Linked DNA regions of Homo sapiens: region 2 is linked to region 1. Evidence: fine-mapped expression QTL. A gene starts in region 1. The other region holds a variant in brackets. All regions are shown on one strand. Distances are from middle to middle.

Region 1 (4,531 bases):
GAAATTTTAAAGTTCTATACATATATATGGTTTTGGTAACAAGTAATAATCTGTATGAAGATATGGGTATAATTGACCAACCTTTCTTTGAAGAATCAGAACCAAAGGAATTAGCTTTTAATCTCCCTTCCATCCTCATGATCTGACCTTATTTTGAACATTTTCCTTTTCCCCCACAAGGCCCCTGTCTCTCAGGCACACATTCAGTCATATCCCAGCCAGCTCACCACAATGCATGTACATGGAACAAGCTGATAGAAGCAGGTGATCCCATCCTTTACTAATGCTTGGTGCGGGAGGTACTTAAGTGGGCACCACTGGGCTCTTATCTTCCATCAAGATGTATCACACTCTGTTCTCAAGCACTTACCAATACTGCATACAAATGCTATGGCCTGTGAAGGAGGCAGCCAACTACAAATGCTGGACACTCAATTTAAGGACGCATGGCAAAGCCAGTAGATAGTAGTAAATTATTGCATGAAGTTCATCAGAATAAAATCAATTGTCATGAGAAGGGTTAAGGGTGTGGGAGGGAATCCATTTAACTTTAAAATACCAATAATACAGGAAGACTAGTGTGGGCATGTGAATGTCTGTGTGTTCGTGTTTAAATAAGGCAAGTTTGTGTCCAGAAAGGTTTGCATTTAGCAGCATCTCTGTACAATCCAAAAGAAATATATGAGAATTTTGTTTGTTTTCTGATACTAGATGAAAAATGTAAGGTTGCTCGACTGACCTAAGAGAGCAAGGATAGAAGGCTTAGAATAATCTGTAACACAGCTGCAACTTCCAACTTTGTCTTCTTGTCTTTCTGCCTCTCACCCATTTCAAGACCCTCTTTGTCAATAAAGGATGTCTCAGATCAGGGCAGTTCACAGGCCTGAGGTTTGACCTAAAAACTAGTAGGAAATTCATATCACCGAGAAACATCAATTTTACATTTCGAGCTAAGCATCCATGATCCACATCACATATGGACAACATTCAGAAAATTCTTATTATAAAAGAGTTGCTCAAATTCAAAAGAAGAAAGACACCACATTTACAGATTTTTTTAAAATGCCTCTGTAAGATGGTATGAAATCACCTTTCTGAAAACCCACTGTCTGCAAGGTTACTATGTAACAATATTTACAATAGTTGCCATTGGTTTTGAACCAACCAGATGCCAGGCCAGGCACTGTGCTAAACATGCTACTTGAATGATCCCATTTCATCCTTCCAACTACCCAAAGGGCTCATTGTGACCATTATAAATCTCCATTTTTTGGCTGGAAAAAAAAAAAAGGAAGAAAGAAAGAAAAGAAAAACCCAGTATCGGAAAGGTGAGATAACTTGCCCAAGTTCACACTGCTAATACATGGAAGAGCTGGAGTCAAAACTCAAGTCCTCTTTCTCATCCAGTAGCTAAACCAGGGATCTGTACAGCAGAGCAGCAGAATGCTTCGCGTGGCGCCCTGGTTCACAATTTCACAACCAGAAGGTGGAGGGAAGACAGGCTGTGGGCTAGCTCTTAAAGGAAACAGCCGAAGTTTGCTTTTATGTTTGTGATTTTCTCTTTAACTCAGCTTCCTTGCTCCCTCTCAGTATTTAGAAGAGGGAAGGGGCTCTATGGTTCCATGAAGTCAGCTCTTCCCAAGTGAGGGGCACCCTGTGCCCCACAGGGCCACTAGCTCCGCTTCCTCCGGGGCTGGGAAGAAACAGTACCATAGGAGGTCACTGGCGCCCGGGCCTCGCTCCTCTCTCCCCGCGCTCCTCCAGAAGCTGGTCCGACACCCTCTGAAGGGGCATCTTTCTGAGAAAGCAGGTCAGGGGAAGAGGGAGTGAGGCTGCAAGCAGCATTTTCCCAGGCTGTCACAGCTCTGCGCTGAGAGCGACGTGATACCGAGTGGGCGTGCTGGGACACACCGCTTCCTTCTGTCCTCGGCGCTTCCAGCAGCGGTCTGGAGAAACCAAGGAGGAGATGGGGGCGGGGGGTGGTAGCGGGGAGGGGGCGGTGAGGAGGAAAACAAGGGTAGACCCCTCAAAGGGCTGAGGATGGGGGCGGCAACGAGCAGACGTCCCACAACCGCGTTACTTAAATCCCTGCAAAGCAAAGATGGGTCTCTGAACGTTTGGGTTCGAATCCGGGCTCCAGTCCTAACTAGCAGTATGACCTATCCCAGCCGCTGCCTCGTTCTGTGCCTCAGTTTCCTCTTCTGTAAAGTAGGAGGGTTTAACGATAGGATCTCTAAGAATCCGTCTACCCTGAGATTCTGCGGCTTGGTGACTTCTGAGCCCTCACGGCGGCGCGAGACTCACCTTTCTTGGGAAGCTGAGAGGGCGCAGCAAAAGCAGCCGGGATGGGTGCAGTGTCGCCGGGCACTGCTTCCTTCCGCGCCTCTGGCCAAAGCGGACCCCGGAGACCTGGATCCCGGCAGTCTTCCCCAGTGAGCCTCTTACTTTCCGCCGCACTTTCTTTTCCCCCTTTGGGGCTCCTCCCCCGGAGCGGCGCGATTGGCCACGGCCTCACGGCTCAGGCTCCACCCGCCGCCTTGGCTCGCGATCCACCGGCGCTCTGGGCTTCCAGGAGCTGCGGCCGCGGGGCGGCGTCCTGGACGGTCCCGCCCGCCGCCAGGAGGCGCGGCGCCGGGCCCGCCTGCGGACGGATGCAAGGCTGCGCTCGGCCCCTTCGGCTCCCTGCCACCGCCTGTGCGGGCTTGAGCGCGCGGGGAAAGGAGAGGGTTAGTCCTGCAGCGCAGCTCGGCACGCTGCCAGGCGCTGTGGGAAGCTACGCCCCTCACTACACACCGAGGCGCACACATGCGCTCATTGCAAGATCGTGCTCTCGCAGTTGAGATCGGTGCCACCCTGCCCTTTCTTCCTGTCTCGACGTATTTAGCAATCATGCTGCAAGGCCTTGAATCAATTCAGACTGCACGATTTTCGCAACCACCCTGTGCCGGCACAGAGCGCGGCAGGATGTAGATGCGATCTCCGCAGTCCTGAGCTCTTGCTGTCTTGAACTGACATTCATATGAGCAAGCAACAGGACATGACAGCAAGACTAAATCTGTATTGTCCACTGGTAATATACCCATTGCCTAGCACAGTGCCTGGCACAAAGTAGGCACTCAATACATGTATGGGGAACGAATAAAAGAACTAATAGGTTACATAGAAGGAAATAATCTCAAAACAAATATTTGCCTTCATTCATTTCCATTTCCCCAAGTTTTTGCAAGAGCCTTCCTTCAGCTGCCCTCTGCCACTGTAGATGGTAGTCTGTAATATATCCCGGGAAGCGTTATAAAGGCTTTCATTAAGTCATCTCTCTTGTTCAGGCACCTTCTGCTGTGTTCCTACTGCTAGTGCCTCATGATTTTTCCTGACTGGCAAGGCCCTTCATGACCTGTCCCCATTTCTGAAACCCCCTAACCAAAGCCACCTACCAGACTGACGAGTCTTCGCACATCTTCTTGCTCATCACATCTTCTTTTCTCCTCCTCCTACCTAACTGAATCCTACTAATTTATTTTCAAGAATCAAGATTCAGAGAAAGCATTTAAGGAAAAGGAGAAAAAAGATGTGAAATAAGAAAAGGGCCCAGGTGAGTGGGAAGGAAATGAAACCAGCAGGTGCCCGTGCTGCTAAAGGTGCACAGCAGTACGAAACTCAGAGGCTGCCCCTGCCCTGGCGGAGCTTCAGTTCCTAAGGTGAAATATCAGTGTAATTGGAGCCATAGAAATGTTCATGATACTTTACTTCTTGACATCACTTATGAAAATTAATTGCTCAAAATTTTTATTTATCTCAGGATACCTGGGACCCAGCACCTGCTCACAACATTGTCACTGAACCAAAGAGAAAATAATCCAAAAGAATTTAAAATGTTACCTGTATGAAGCAACAATAAAACATTTTCTGATTTATTATTCATTCCTTAAATATATTCTGGGCACAGACTTTTATATATATATAGTACACTGAAGCATTTACACAGTGCTTACAAAATAAAAAGGTGCAATCATAAGGACTTTGTGTATATTAATTCAGGTAACCCTCAATACAACCTGGAGGGTGCTATTATTATCTCCAGTTCATAAAGGAGATAAAGGGAATTTAAATAACTTGACCAAGGCTACAGGCCTACAAGTGGAGAATACAAAATGAGACTAGAGACACTCGACGTTCATGCTCTCAGCCGCTACTCAGTCTCATGTACTACCTAGAAGCCAAACAGATGCTAGTAATTCAGAATTGAACCAGATGTATATTCCCGGACATTGAAGGGCTACTCATAGCTTAAGGAAGATAACATTAAGATGAATAATCATATAGACAAATATTCATAGTATATTGTAGTTTGAACACAATATAAATGGTTGGAAATGAAAATGATTAGTTAACCAACGCTGTCTACGCACAGAATAAAATATTTGCATCATAACTATCATATTATGGAAATATGTCTACAAAGAAAAAGGCTTACAAAATAAGGTTGAGTAAAAGTTGTGGAGAGATGAACACCAATTGAAAGGAATGTGAA
Region 2 (4,000 bases), 110 kb before region 1:
GTTACCCTGTTATTGGTTCTTATAACCAAGGATAATTATTTCAGAACAACTTTATGTAATCTTCCTCACTTTGCCTTTCAAAACTGTTATGTTCCTATGCTTTCTGGGTATGGCTATGGTTCCCGCATGGGATGCCATAGCACTCATATTCCTGGATTGCTATCTGCAATTCATTCCTGAATAAATCCTTTTCTTTTTGGAGAGCTATTGTCTTTGTTGTTATTTAGGTTAACACCTCTCACTGGGTTTGGACTGGATGTATTGTAAGTGATACAACATAGAAAATGTTAAAATTTTCTATAGTTTCCTGTTCACTTAACTGTGGGAGGCTTTGAGTCAAAAGAGTAACATGTTATCCCGTATTTGGTCAGTTATCAATGATTTTTGGCTATAATGAAAAATTATGGAAACTAAAAGAAGAACCGAAGAGCCACAGTAAGCATTCAATAGTGTTCTGCGTCAATGTCTACTAGTTTTATCAGTTGTTAGCTATTATATTCACAGTCTTGCCTTCAAGATCCACCACTGACCTTTCATAATGGAGCAGGAGCTTGAAGGATGTCTAAATCTTGTGCCCATGTTGCAGCCTTGGCAAACCAAAGCCCTGTGCAAGCTAAAGTTTGCATCAAACAGAAATCACTCATCAGCAGAGGAAGACGGCTAGCAGAGGGAGAAGGGAGCAGATACCGAGAGTGAAGCAAAAAATTCTAGAGTTGCCCATGGGATCAGGGAAGTAACTGATCTCCACAGCTGCTTTGGTTTCTGACATTTCAGTTTCAATTCATGTGTTTCTCTACAACAGTCGTCTATTTTCTTGCATTAACTTAAATGACATTTTATTCCTTGTAATTAAGAGAATCTAAGTGAAATTCAGAGACATAGCTGTAATTACCTGGTTCTTTCTCATAGACCACATGATCATTAGGTGAATGGATCACAGGGGGCACTGCATTTTTTGGAGAGCCTGTGTTAGAGGAAATAAAAAAGGGAGATGATGTTAAATCAGGCAGCCTTATTAAAAATTCTGCTCTTCTCTGAATCTTGCCTAACTTCCTGGCATAGTTTGTCAGTTGTTTTAGAGAAGGCCTATAGTCCAAGATATACTCAATTACTGCACTTCAGTCATTTAAAACAAGCAAAGCATAAAATAAAGGAAATACAGGTTTGATGACTGCTCCCAGTTCCTGACATGGGCTCCTAAATCCCCTGTGATTTCCTGTGTGACAGGGGTAATAGGAGCATCTATTGTTTTAATATTGTTCTAGTCCCAAATTCCTAACACAACAGCTTCTAAGACCTTTGGAATCTCTGGAGTAACGAGTGGATTTTATATGCTAATGAAATGATTGGTGGCTAGGGTTCCTATATAGCTTCTGGATGAGCGCTAGTAGCCAGAAAGACCATAGATGATTAACACAATCTCCAGCCTCTCACCCATCCCTGGAAGTTTGGGAGTGTGGCTGAAATTTCCAGTCCTTTTACTCAATAATGCCTGTGTGACGGAACCTCCATAAAAACCCTAAACAATGAGGTTCGGAGAGCTTCTAGGTTGGTAAGGACATCCACAAGCTGAGAGGGTGGAGCTCTGAACTCAGGACCCTTCCAGAACTCCCCCTATGTATCTCTTCAGCTGGATGTTCATTTGAATCCTTTATAATATTTTCTATAATAACAAAGTAAGGGTAAGTAAAAGGTTTTCCTGAGTTTTGTGAGCAGTTATACCAAATCACAGAACCTGAGGAAGAAGTAGTAGGAATCTTAAGTTTGTAGCCAACTCAGGCAGAGTTGTGGGTAACGCGGGAACCTATTGCTTGTGACTGGAATCTAAAGTAGGGGGTGGGGCAGTCTTTTAGGAAGGAGTCCTTCACCTGTGGGGTCAGTGCTAACTCTGGATAACTGGTGTCAAATTGAATTAAACT[T/G]TAGGACATGCAGTTAATGTCCTCAGAAAAGGTGAGAATTACTTTGTATAGAAGAGCCACACATTTAGTGACAAAAGTGTTTTGAGCATAGAAAAAAATAGTTTTTGCTTTACAAAGAAAAAAATAAAACATACTAAATACCCTCCATGCTTAAGGTCGGATTGCTTAGCAAAGCTTTCCAAAGCTTACATGAGATAGATGTCTTATGTTGCATAATACCTAATTGCTTTCATGCCTTAGTCAGTTGTTTCTTCTCTCTGTATTTCTTCACAACATTACCGAAAGTGTCTAGTATGGAAGCTGGTTAAATAAGTATTACATTAATGAGTAAATCAATGGAAAATTCACAATCATGATGTTAAGGCCGGCACATTAGTCTACTTGATGACTAGTTACCAGTTGAATGTTTGTTTATGAGATTGCTGCTCTTTATAATATTCAGTACTCCTAATTTTTTAAAAATAATACATTGAGTAGAGTTTTTAGTATTGTCTTCAAAAGTATGAGCTCCAAAGATTTAATAACCAAGTTCTAATCCTGATTTGGCCATATATTAACCATATAAAAATGCAAAAGCAAAGTTACTTGGTTTTTCCTAATTTTTGAAAAGCTAATTTTTCATAACTCTAAAATGAGGATAATTAAAACTCATATCGCAGTTTCACTATGAGAAATAAACTAAGGAATATATATTAAGGATATGCTACTGGCATATAATAAATACTCAACACTTTGCAGCTTTAAAACAACAAACTTGTGTTGCTTGAAATTTGAGAAAGAAGCCCCCAGTGCCCAGATCTGTCTGTGAATTTTTAAATCTGTTAATCAGAGTGACAAAGTATGCTTATTCCCAACTTCCCCAAAATGCATACTTTTAAGCACATATATTAGAAACAACTGCTAAGATGAATATAAGGTTACATTATTCATTTGACTTTTAAAATTTAGTCTGTTTTTTTCTTATGAATTAATCCCCAACTCAGCATTATTTAGAAAGTAAGCAGAAAAAGAACAGAAGTGATTACGACATTGTTTGAATACTATTTGCACTATATGAAAGGCTGTTTGTAGCTAACTTATACTAAATCATGTCAGACCAGTAGAAAAAGCCCTGAGCAGAGACCTGGGATCTAGAATTACTTCTTCAAGTAACTCACTGAGTGTCTCTAAACAGGTTACTTCTTGTCAGTGAGCCTAATGTTTCCATCTATTAAAAGATGGGGTATGACAAAACAATACCCAGAGATGCTATCTTTTTTAATACACTGGACACAGTGGTATTTAGGGGTAATCCCCAAAAGCCATATATCCTGACACTACTTCTCTATTTCTGGGTTTGCTAGGAGTTTGTCAACTCTGTCTAAGAATTGCCTTTCCCACTTTCCTAGTTTCTCACCCCCTATTCTCTTAGTGCAAAATAATGGTTGAACATTATTGCCAGCAAATACCTTCAGCAATAGGTACAGCAGTTTCAGTATGTAGAAAAATAGAGTTTACTTAATCCAAGTAAAACATTCTTTTGACAAAAGTGTTGCACTGAGTCTCTATTGCTTGCCTGAAACTGCATTAATACAATATGAATATTTTTTTAAATATTCTCAATCAATTGCAGTTCCAGAGTACAGATAAAGACAGGGACCTTGTTCAACGTCATGTTTCTAATAAGTGGCAGTGACAGAATTTGAACACAGATCTGTCTGGTGCTCCTTTCCCTCCCCAAACTACCTTTACTTCATTCATTTATTCACATATTCATTCAGTTGACCAACAGTTACTGAATGCTTACGATGTGCATGGAATTGTTGAAGGCTCTAGAGACAGTACTGTAAACAAAAAACATGAATCACTTTTCTTATACAATTTACATACTAGTGTGTAATAAACTATTAAAAACCATAACAAGATGATCACATGCTTGTTGTGTGTACTGGACACTAATCATGCTTACCTACTACCTTTACAGTCAGAGTCCTGGTGAGATGAAACGTACGTCCATTTTCTGGATATGTAACAACACATGTGTAATTTCCATTATTTGAAATTAAGGCAATGAGGAAACTCAAGTTCATACCTTCGGGTAT

Evidence for each region. PIP is the estimated chance that this variant, and not a neighbour inherited with it, causes the effect.
Region 2: its variant is the best candidate, but not a certain one, in a credible set for the expression of IL1RAP in whole blood (TOPMed, PIP 0.59).

Annotation. Positions count from the first base shown.
Region 1 is chr3:190,511,993-190,516,523 of GRCh38, reverse strand. It overlaps IL1RAP (interleukin 1 receptor accessory protein), which reads right to left and starts at 2,439. Exons shown (of 12, transcript NM_002182.4): 1 at 2,305-2,439. RefSeq lists enhancers at 1,249-1,748, 1,749-2,250, 3,003-3,092 and a silencer at 2,503-2,852.
Region 2 is chr3:190,620,308-190,624,307 of GRCh38, reverse strand. IL1RAP (interleukin 1 receptor accessory protein) reads right to left here. Exons shown (of 12, transcript NM_002182.4): 6 at 3,868-4,000; 7 at 893-964. Among named protein-coding and RNA genes, the nearest start is that of LINC02013, 77 kb to the left of the region's middle. The variant T/G (reference allele first, on the strand shown) is at 1,920.